Linked DNA regions of Homo sapiens. The protein of the gene in region 3 interacts with the protein of the main gene of each other region in a pairwise test. Each region holds a gene or a part of one and is shown on either strand. Other genes may lie near its edges. The genes, in order: CHIC2, PAX5 and FBLN1.

Evidence for each region.
Region 1: the proteins of FBLN1 (region 3) and CHIC2 interact in binary tests that used the Homo sapiens proteins (3 or more experiments, as listed by UniProt).
Region 2: the proteins of FBLN1 (region 3) and PAX5 interact in binary tests that used the Homo sapiens proteins (3 or more experiments, as listed by UniProt).

Annotation. Positions count from the first base shown.
Region 1 is NC_000004.12:54,015,907-54,019,663, forward strand, and holds part of CHIC2 (cysteine-rich hydrophobic domain-containing protein 2), read right to left. Parts: intron 1-3,757.
Region 2 is NC_000009.12:36,832,719-36,835,375, forward strand, and holds the end of PAX5 (paired box protein Pax-5), read right to left. Parts: 3' UTR 551-2,657; downstream 1-550. UniProt on the Homo sapiens protein: Transcription factor that plays an essential role in commitment of lymphoid progenitors to the B-lymphocyte lineage. Fulfills a dual role by repressing B-lineage inappropriate genes and simultaneously activating B-lineage-specific genes.
Region 3 is NC_000022.11:45,540,756-45,544,512, reverse strand, and holds part of FBLN1 (fibulin-1 isoform D precursor), read right to left. Parts: intron 3,285-3,757; coding exon 3,141-3,284; intron 2,359-3,140; coding exon 2,230-2,358; intron 1,113-2,229; coding exon 987-1,112; intron 1-986. UniProt on the Homo sapiens protein: Incorporated into fibronectin-containing matrix fibers. May play a role in cell adhesion and migration along protein fibers within the extracellular matrix (ECM).

The DNA.
Region 1 (3,757 bases), on a different chromosome or scaffold from region 3:
TCATTGACTCTGAAAGGCTACTCTATCAATGGTGAAAAATGGCAATAGGTTCTACTCTGAGCAGGCATCTGCCTGCCCACCCGCTGCTAAACCAATGGCAAAACCGATTCAAAACCTGAATCTACCTTGTAATCTTTCTTTCTAGGGCCTTTTAATAATAGATTAAGATTACTATACAATTTGAGGTTTTACTTTTACTGATGATTTTGGGGGTGGGTGGATGATGAAAGAACTAGAGCAGAACAAGTTTTCCAAGCCCACTGTTTTATATTAATGTATAAAATAGTACCCAAAAGCTTAATACTACATTCTGCAAATACTTATTACTTAAAGAAAAAAATGTAGTTACCACCATCATTTCATCAGAAGTTTAAACCCATGCTATAATAAGAATAGATCTCATTATGATATATAGACACATACATACACACAATTTTAAAACTTAAAAATATTTACTTTAACTTAAATCAACTACTAGTATTTGAATAAAAGATAATTACAAAGTATAAATCTTGAATTCCAAAATATTTAAGTAGGAATTCTGAATTTCTTCTCTGTTTATAATTAGGAGTTTAATGATAGGGCTTGGTATAATAATTGTATCTTACAATATTTAAGAATTATAAAACAAACAAGCCCTGATATGCCACATTCTGAATAAGCATATAAATATAAAATATTTCTACACACTTCACAGTCTGAAGTAAAAGCTGTGAATTAGCACCATCTAATTTTGCTATAAGACTTCTTTCCTGCTTGACAGGTGAAAAAAAAAGCACTTGCACGTGCAGCTTAATTAATCATTGCACTTGACATCTCAATGATTTACAGTGAGGAGCAGGTGAGAACATACAAAACCAGAAAGGAACCCTTGATTTGAGTGGAACATTTCTAGCACACTAAGGTGACAAGTATATAGATTCTAGCAGTCATTTAAAAAAAAAAGGAAAGAAACTGTGCCACAAATTATTTGTTAGTAACAACAAAAGCTCAAATTAAATAGAAAAAAAAAAGGTTGAGCTACTGAGAATGTTTAATACTATGCAATTATTGTTAGTTAAGAAAATCAAAATATATTTTCAAGATTAAATACAATACCAATTTGGCAGATACTAAAAAAAATGACACTTCAGCATTTATAAAAGCTACTTAAAAGCTTTTAAAAGAAAGCACTTTATAATTGTAGTCATCTAGATAAAAGTTAAAGAGTTTATGTCCACAAGGCTGTCAGGTAGCTATTTCTAATGAAATGTAAGATTCAACAGTGTCGAACTCTACACTTGCTAACTGTGGACAAGCAAATCTAATCATATAACAACCTGTCCTTGGTTTTTAAATGTTTATTTCAACTCCAAATTCAAAACAAGCTGAAGCAAATTAACATGCATCAGAAAAAAATATGTATGGGATCTGTCAACATGAAACAAAGTACCAAAAAACACCATCTTTCAGTATTCCAGGCCAGTTTCTAAAAAAATAAGTCATCTTTAATTTTCTTTAAGAGAATTTAGTGCTTGTGAAAAGCACCAGATTGATAGTCATGGGAACTAAAAATCTATTTAGCTGAAAGAACAGGGGAAGGGGCAGTGCAGGCTTTAGTGTAAGCTTCCCTACAGTGGGCCTTAATCCTTTTCACTGCTCACACCCTGGGGGTGAGGGGACAGGTTAGCGGTTCTTTACCAATGTAATTCTCCGTCTTTCTGCAAAAGATGATCAACAAGAAATGTAATTTTATCAAGTATTCTTATCTTTAATTAAAAGGACCAAGACCACCAACTCACAATATGCAGGAAAAACAACTTTTTTGTGTGAATGGCGTCATGTTACTAACCTGGTCTGGAAGTAGACAGCTCCAAGCATCTGGATCCCACCCATCTCCCTCAGCTCACTTTAAATAACCCTTTTTCTTTAAAAAAACAAAAACAAAAACAAAAACAAAACACACATTTCTTCATTTCCACACCTTAGTGGTTATATTTTTCTCATTGGTGAACTAGTTTTAATACAGCCATTCAGCTTTGTGAAAGTAAAAATTAACAGGAGATTTAAAAAATATCATTTCAATTACTGAATAGGTATTAAACAGACTTAAGTTGAGCAACAAGTAGTAGTAACATAAGAATAGAAATTTTGGCTTCTATTTATATTGCCTTTGGTCCCTTTTAGATTTTTGGTAGAATTGTGAAAATAGGAAAAACATGAAAACGGAAAGAGAACTAAAAGGGCCTCAGTAATTCATAAAATGGCTAATATGGTAATGATTAATCAGCAATATTAGATAAGACATACCCAAATAAGACATACCTTCCAAAGAAGCATCTAAAGTAAGCTTATAACAGCAAAGCACACATACACCTAGACAAACTCAATTACTGCAATAGAAAACTAAGATTTCCTGAAAATTCAAATTTGAATTATTATGTATTTTTGTAATTTTTCCTAAATACTGTAACTTTCTTAGGAATAAATTATTAATATTATTCCCTATAAACAAATTAAATGCCATTAGATATAAATTAGTCTTCCAGGACAGCAAAGAGCCATTTAGAAAATCTTTAAGGTATTAATCTCCTACTTTGCCACCACTGGTTACTTAAGAGTTTCCTAATTCCCAATGACTCATTTAATCACAATCAATTGTTTGAAAACATGGTTTTACAAAGAAGTGGTTTTCTAGACATTACTAATAAAACCAATGGAAATCTCATAAATTTTAGAGTATTGAGAGCTAAAGAAAAAAAATGTTAAGTGTAGAAACTGTAACAAAGTTTATCTTAATATTTCCCAATAAAATAGTATTATCAGTCTTTAGAACAAAAATATGCTATGATATGCTAATAAAATGTACAGAATACTCACTAATAACTATTTATAAAAGTTCACCTATTTAAACCTATAATTAAAATGTATTTGAATTGGATTTATTCATACCATCACAAAATGGGAAAGCAAAATTTCAAATGTTCAATTCCCTACTTAAATTTTAAACTCTTAAATCTATAATGCATTAATTAACCTTTAACTAAAATGTTTTGAATATATTCATAATCTTGTTTTTAACTTATATTTTTCAAATAAGAATGCTATTCATCTTTAGACATCTGTGTAAATTGAATTTGTTAAGTAAAACAATGTCTTTAGCTGTAAGTTATTAGGGAGAAACCATATATAATTTAAAATGAATTATTTTAACATAAGAGAACTTAAGAGGAAATTATATTATTCACTTCTGCTCATTCTGGATTAATATGAAATTTTATATTCCAGTGATGTGCAGAAAATTAAATAATTATATCACAGTATTATGCTACGTGAAAAGCCTAGATTCACCAAAAAACAAAAAAAAACTAGAATATGATTTCTCAAAAGGATTTTTAAACAAATTCCTTTCCTGTACATTAAAGCACCTTTTAAAATTTTAATATGAACATTAACTTTTAAATAATCTAGATATATTAAAACACCCACTGAAGTATCATGTGCTATTTGTTAAAAGTAATATTTTTAGATAGAAATACGCTAAAAAAAATTGCTAAAATTTTGTGAATCAAAAATATCCTCTAGTACTGAGCAGTGTCTTAATAGGTGCTAATCTTAAACAGAATTTCATCAAGTTTACGATCTAGGCTAGTGAGAGAATATTAACTTGTTTAGGTTATACTGGTTATGAATTATGAAAGATAGGGATTCTCTCTCTGCAGAAAAAAAGAAACATGTACACAAACATGCACAATTTAAAGGGGGTTATCTACTAACT
Region 2 (2,657 bases), on a different chromosome or scaffold from region 3:
TTCTACAAAAAGTTTTAAAAAATTAGCTGATAATATGTTAGTTTGTAAGTAGGGAAAAATTATTTTAAAAACTAGCTGGGCTTGGTGGTGAACGCCTGTAGTCCTAGCTACTTGAGAGGCTGAGGCAAGAGGGTGGCTTGAACCCAGGAATTCAAGGTTGCAGTGAGCTATGATTGTGCCACTGATAGCAGAGTCCTGGTTGGCCCTGTTCACTTCTGTGTCCCCAGTGCTGGGGACAGAATAGATGCTCAATCAGTGTGTGCTGAATGAATGAATTAGGTGGGAATTACCATTTGGGAACTGAAGAAGTAGACATTAAATCACAGCTAGGAGTCAAATCCAGAGTGGTGGCTCACCCATGACTCAACCTGCCAAGCCTGGGGACATCTCAAGGGTGGATTCTGTGCCTGCTGTCCCCTGCCCAGGGCACAGCCCAATTCTGCAACATGGGTTTGTTTTGACAAAACAATCAAATCCATGCATGACTACGGTACAGTCAAAGTTGTCAAAGGTCATCCTCAAACTAGTAAAAACAAACAAGATCAAATTCTTTTTCTGAACTTAAAAAATTACTTTTATTTTAGGAACCAATAAAATTATGGCAAATATTTACAAATAATTATCTCACATAAAGGTTACATAAAATCAATTCTTCACAAGTAACAGCCACTCATGAAAAGACACACAGATATTGAAACTACGCCAATCTTATTGCATGTTTCTCCAACTAATCTAAAATAAAGGTGTTGCAGTCAACCATTTAACTTAAAAGGAAGCCACAAATTTCAGGTTTGACAAGGAAAAAAAAGTAAAAAAAAAATTAAACCAAAACCCCACCCCTGTTTTCTCCCAAGTCCCACCCCTAGCCCTGCCCTCCTCCCCAAAAAAGAAAAATATGTCCAACATCTTTGGCAAATTGGCACTGCTGTAATTACATTCAAATATTATTACACACAAAAGCAACACACGTCACTAAGAAAAAAACCACCAATATTTCAAGTCAGTTATTTTCTACTAGAAAAAAAGAATACAAAACATACACATTTTTTAAGAAGCATTTTTTTTTTTCAATCCGTTGGAGACAGATCATCTCCCACTTTCAAAGGCAATTCAATTGTGGTTTTTGTTGTTGGTTTTTTTGTATTTTTTTGTATTTTTTTTTTTTTACAAGTAAGCGTCTATGCAGGCATCACAAACTTTGGCGGATACAGTAGATATGTATTTCTTTGATGCTGAAAGGTCAGTCCCTAAGACAAAATCAAATGTCTCAAAGAATTAAAAGCAAAATGCATGTGTCTTCCTGGCAAAGGTTTCCATTTGCAATGTAATCTGCATTTCTACAAATACTCAATGTCCAAGGCCACTAGAGGGTGAAAAACCAGGGCAGCGTCTTCCAGCAGGAGTCAGGGCAAACCCAGAGCCAAAACTCCATCCTCAGCCCAACCTTGGAGGCCCAGCAGCTGGGGCTGAGAAGTGGGGCCCAGGCAACGCCAGGCCCTCACTGCCCGCCACCCTCTGTTGTGCTGGGTGCTTGGGGCCAGGGGATGGGCCTGCCTCTTCCTGAGCCCCGGGACAGGCTGCTGCCGGGTCTGCTCACCTTCTCTGACCCAAGTCGAAGACAGCAGGCAAGAATTGGCATGGGGAGACTCAGTGCTGTTTCTGAGTTTCAAGTATGTCTGAGGTGTAGGGGAGTGAGTGAGTGTGTGTGTGTGTGTGTGTGTGTGTGTGTGTGTGTTTACATGCTCGTGCACCTTATGGAGGGGAAGGCCAGATTCTGAGGCTCTGAACTTTTTGCAGTGTTTAAAATAGACTCAGGATTTATTTATTTTCTTTTTAGCTTTATAGCAATTAATTGGCTATTGATTGGTTGGAATGTTCAACTCTCCATTTCCTCAAATACAATAAAATAGTTTCATTAAAATGTATTCATGCTTGAAAAGAAGGGCGCCATTAAATGGTTTCCTTTCTGTTCCACTCCAAGGGAAATGCGCCGTTTGTAAATCAAAAATCCATCATCCAAAATCACTTGTTCTTAATGATGCTTTTGGAGAAGATGAGGGACGTGGCCACAGGCATGGTGATTTTGGGGACAAGGGCGACCAGCGGCCATAGCCACAGGGTCACAGGGTGGGGGGCGGGGGTCAGGGCAGGTGAGGCTGGTGTGGCCTCCTCCTGCCAGGCCTCAGAGTCGGGGAGGAGATGCACGACTGCCAAGTCACCCCCACCCTGCTGTTTCACCTGCTTCCCTCCCTGGGCCCCGATCAGCCACCGGAAGCTGATGGGTGGGTGGGTTTGTGCCTCTGTCTCTCCTGCCACAGGCCAAGTACCCTACCTGAGACGACTCCTTTGAGGCTTTGCTGATTGTCCCTCAGTAGATATTAATAGGTAAGCAGCTGCATTTTCTCCTTGTGTTGCTCAGGGGTCTAAGATGTGGGAACAAGAATTTCTGGGCTTTCTGAATGGTGGCTACGTTTACCCATCTTGGAGATGAGCTAAAGGGGACCCCTTGGATTGAAACTCTAGAATGGCAGTGACATGATTCTGAGGTTCCCTTCAATCCTGGGGTGCCCAGGAACGGAGCCTCAGTGCTGAGGAATTACCAGAAAAGGAAAGACAGGCTGGTGCCTGCCTGCTCCTGGCCGGCAGCTCATTTCAGA
Region 3 (3,757 bases):
AACCAAGGAGTGTCTTTCTCAAGGGCTGGGGACATGCCTGGGGAATGTCGTCATCCGGAAGGCCAGGGTGCTTCTCCCTGTCTCTGCGGGTGGGGAAAGCCTAACTCCAACACGAAGTTAGAGGCAGGCCGGGCGCGGTGGCTCACGCCTGTAATGCCAGCACTTTGGGAGGCCGAGGTGGGCGGATCATCTGAGGTCAGGAGTTCAAGACCAGCCTGGCCAACATGGGGAAACCCTGTCTCTACTAAAAATACAAAAATTAGCTGGGCATGGTGGTGTGCACCTGTAATCCCAGCTATTCGGGAGGCTGAGGCAGGGGAATCGCTTGAACCCGGGAGGCGGAGGTTGCAGTGAGCCGAGATCGTAGCATTGCACTCCAGCCTGGGTGACAGAGCGAGACTCCGTCTCAAAAAAAAAAAAAGAAGTTAGAGGCAGGTGCACAGTGACCCACGCCCTAAAGGCCTCAGTACTTCCTCTCACAGCTCGTCATTTACAAAGCCTCCCTCCTTTTGTTTGGGTGACTTGAGATCAATGGACACAGAGGCCTGTCTCCCCTAGGCAGCATCTGATTAAAACCCACACACTGTCTTTGTGCAAAACAAGTGTCCAGTTTTCGCTGCTGTTTCACACATCAACCCCTCTCCCCGGGGAGGACACGGAGGCAGGGAGAGGTCGGGCATAACCAAGGCCCTGTGACTCGTGGGTGTCATGCTCCAAGCCCCATAATCCTAGCCACATCCCGCATGGCCTCTGCCGCAGCCTATGAACCCCGACACGGCCTCGGAGGGTGGATGTCATCAGGAGAAATCGGGTGGGCAGGCGGGCAGTCCTCTCTGATGAACAATATTTTACAGGCACTTCCCCTGCTAACATGTCATTTAACAGGGAAACCATCGCGGATCTGCTGCAAACCGGTCTGCAGAAGGGTGGCTTCCCCAGGAGGAAGGTGACCTGGGGGAGGTGAGTGGACGGGGCCCCAGCCTCACCTTCACATGACCTGCCATCCACAGAGAGCCGGAAGCCCACGGAACAGCTGCAGAGGTAGGAGCCCAGCGTGTTCTCGCACTTGTGGCCACACAGGCGCCCGGGGTAGCGCTGGCACTCGTTGACATCTGAAAGTGAGGGGTGGGCTGACTCAGGGCAATGTCCAACACAGTGGCACCACACTCCACCCTCCTAGTAAGGCCAGCTCATGTCCTTTGTCCTCCACCTCCTCCAGCCTCATTTCTTTTTTTTCCTTCATCTTTGAGATGGAGTCTCGCTCTGTCTCCTAGGCTGGATTGCAGTGGCATGATCTCAGCTCACTGCAACCTCCGCCTCCCAGTTCAAGTGATTCTCCTGCCTCAGCCTCCCAAGTAACAGGGATTACAGGCATGTGCCACCACGCCCGGCTAATTTTTGTATTTTTTGTAGAGATGAGGTTTCGTCATGTTGGCCAGGCTGGTCTCAAACTCCTGACCTCAAGTGATTCACCTGCCTTAGCCTCCCAAAGTGCTGGGATTACAGGCATGAGCCATCGCGCCTGGCCTCCAGCCTCATTTCTCAGACAAGGAATGCAAAGTGACTTGTCCCGAGCATGCGGGAAGTCAGTGGGAGAGCCGGGACTGCCGCGCTGTGCCTGCCTGGTGGGCGAGCCTCGTGCTCCTTCTGCGGCAGCACATCTGAACTTGTGCCCTCCTGCCAGTCCTCCTCCCCAGGACCCACAAGGAGGGTCTGCCAGGATCTAGCAAAGTGCCCACTTTGGGGGAGTGGTTGGCAGCTGCCAGGCTTCCCTGAGCACCTAGGTTTGGTGACAGCAGGCACTGGCTGGACAAGACCTGACCCCACTCCTGGTCAACTTTTCCCCTCGCTGCCCTGGGCTAAAGGCACACATCTCTAGCTCCTGGGGATCTACAGCTCAGCGGTGAATCTCCAGGAAATCGCTGATGCTGCCCACATGTGTAGACCTGGCTCATCAGCACTTGGAGGTCCTGGGTCAAGCAGAACCCCTTTCCACAGATGGGGAGCAGGCTCACACACAGGGGGGTGGTGCCAGTGGCCGCCTGGCTGGGCAGTAGCAGAGCTGGGGCTAGAATGGGGTCTCCTGACTCAGGATCTTCTCTCAGGGTCTGCCTGCACTTGGGATTATCTGAGATGAGGATCAGACCACATCACTCGAGGTGCCACAGAAATGTGTCCCTGGTGCCACGTGGCTGGGTTCCCCCGAGGCCTGCGGGGCCCCCCACGCACCGACACACATCCTGCTGATGCCGTCAAAATAGTAACCCGTCTTGCATTCGCAGCGGAAACTGCCGGGAGAGTTCACGCAGCGATGTCCCTTCCCACAGGGCTCAGCAGGTGGCGCGCACTCGTCCACATCTTGCAAAGGAGAAAGAAAGCCATGATGAAAACCTTTAGTTTGGGTTTTTTCCCCCCAAGATGATCAGAAAGGAAAGCAAGAAAGGAACACATGGACATGGAAACAGGCATTCCATTTCAACACGACTTCACAGAGCACCTACTGAGTGCCGGGCCCTGGACTGGGAAGATAGCTGACCCAGAGGCAGCCCTACCTGGCTGGCAGGCCAGCAATGACTCTCATTAAGGTAGGAAGTGCCCAGGAACCCAGGGAGACACTGAAGAAGTGTCCTGGGGGTTATGCGAGGAAGGCTCCTTCCCTGGCGGGATCTAGGCAGGCTGGGTGCCCTGGATCCAAAGGAACGTAGGAGCAGGTGGGCAGAGGGAATGACGTGAGAGCAAACACCCACACAGAGAGGAAAGGACAGTGCTTGTGTGGGGAGTGGCAGACCCACATTGCCTGAATTACAAGGTTTGTGGAGTTGGGCCAGCTCTGGGGGACTGGACTGTAAGCAGAGGCATCCATCCTTTGTCACCAACGGGGAGCTGATGGAACTGTAAACAGGGTGGGGTGCGAGAGCTTTGGGCTCAGGACAAGCCAGACAAGGCTGAGGCAGTAGACGGGCTGGTGCACCAGTCCAGGCAAGACAATGAAGCCCCATGCTTGGGAACTGACAGTGGGATGGATGGGCTGATAGAAATGGCTTTGCTTTGGGGATCAACTTTCTGCTTCCAGAGAAGGCAGGGTGCATGCTGGAAGCAGACAGGAAAGTGGATTTCAGATTTGTTTTCTTAATACCAACCAACACAGCGCGTTCCCTCCTCGTTGAGATGGTAGCCACGGCCACAGTTGGGCACGTTCTTCTGGCACGTGTAGGAGCCCTCTGTGTTGATGCATGTATGCCCGATAGGGCACGGGGCACTGATACTCAAACACTCATTGATATCTACAGCGGGAAAAGACAGAGACCATGTGGTTAAACCTGGAGGGTGTCCCAGAACCCAAAAACTGGATCTCCAAAGAAACTCCCCTTCCCACCTCTTTGCAAAACCACAAATGGAGGGGCTCAACCCCCTCACTCTGGACCACACAGCCGCCTCCCAGCTGGCTCCCAAATTTTATCACTGCATACCGCCTCAAACACCACCTCTCTGGCCCTTCTTCCTGTCCCTAAATCTCCAGCACCTCCATCGTTCGCTGCGCCAAATCGGGACCTGCCTGCCTGGCTTCTCCTGCATTCATCTACTCCACACACTGGGCACGGTATTAAGGAGACAGGTGACTGTCCACGTGGTGCCAGCAACTCTGACTCCCAGCAAGGCTCTAGGCCCCTCCGATGACTGGGCTTCACAGGGCCTATGCTGAGCCAGGCCCACCCGGGAGGTGCCATGGCTCCCTGAGCTCACTGCACGGCAGTCT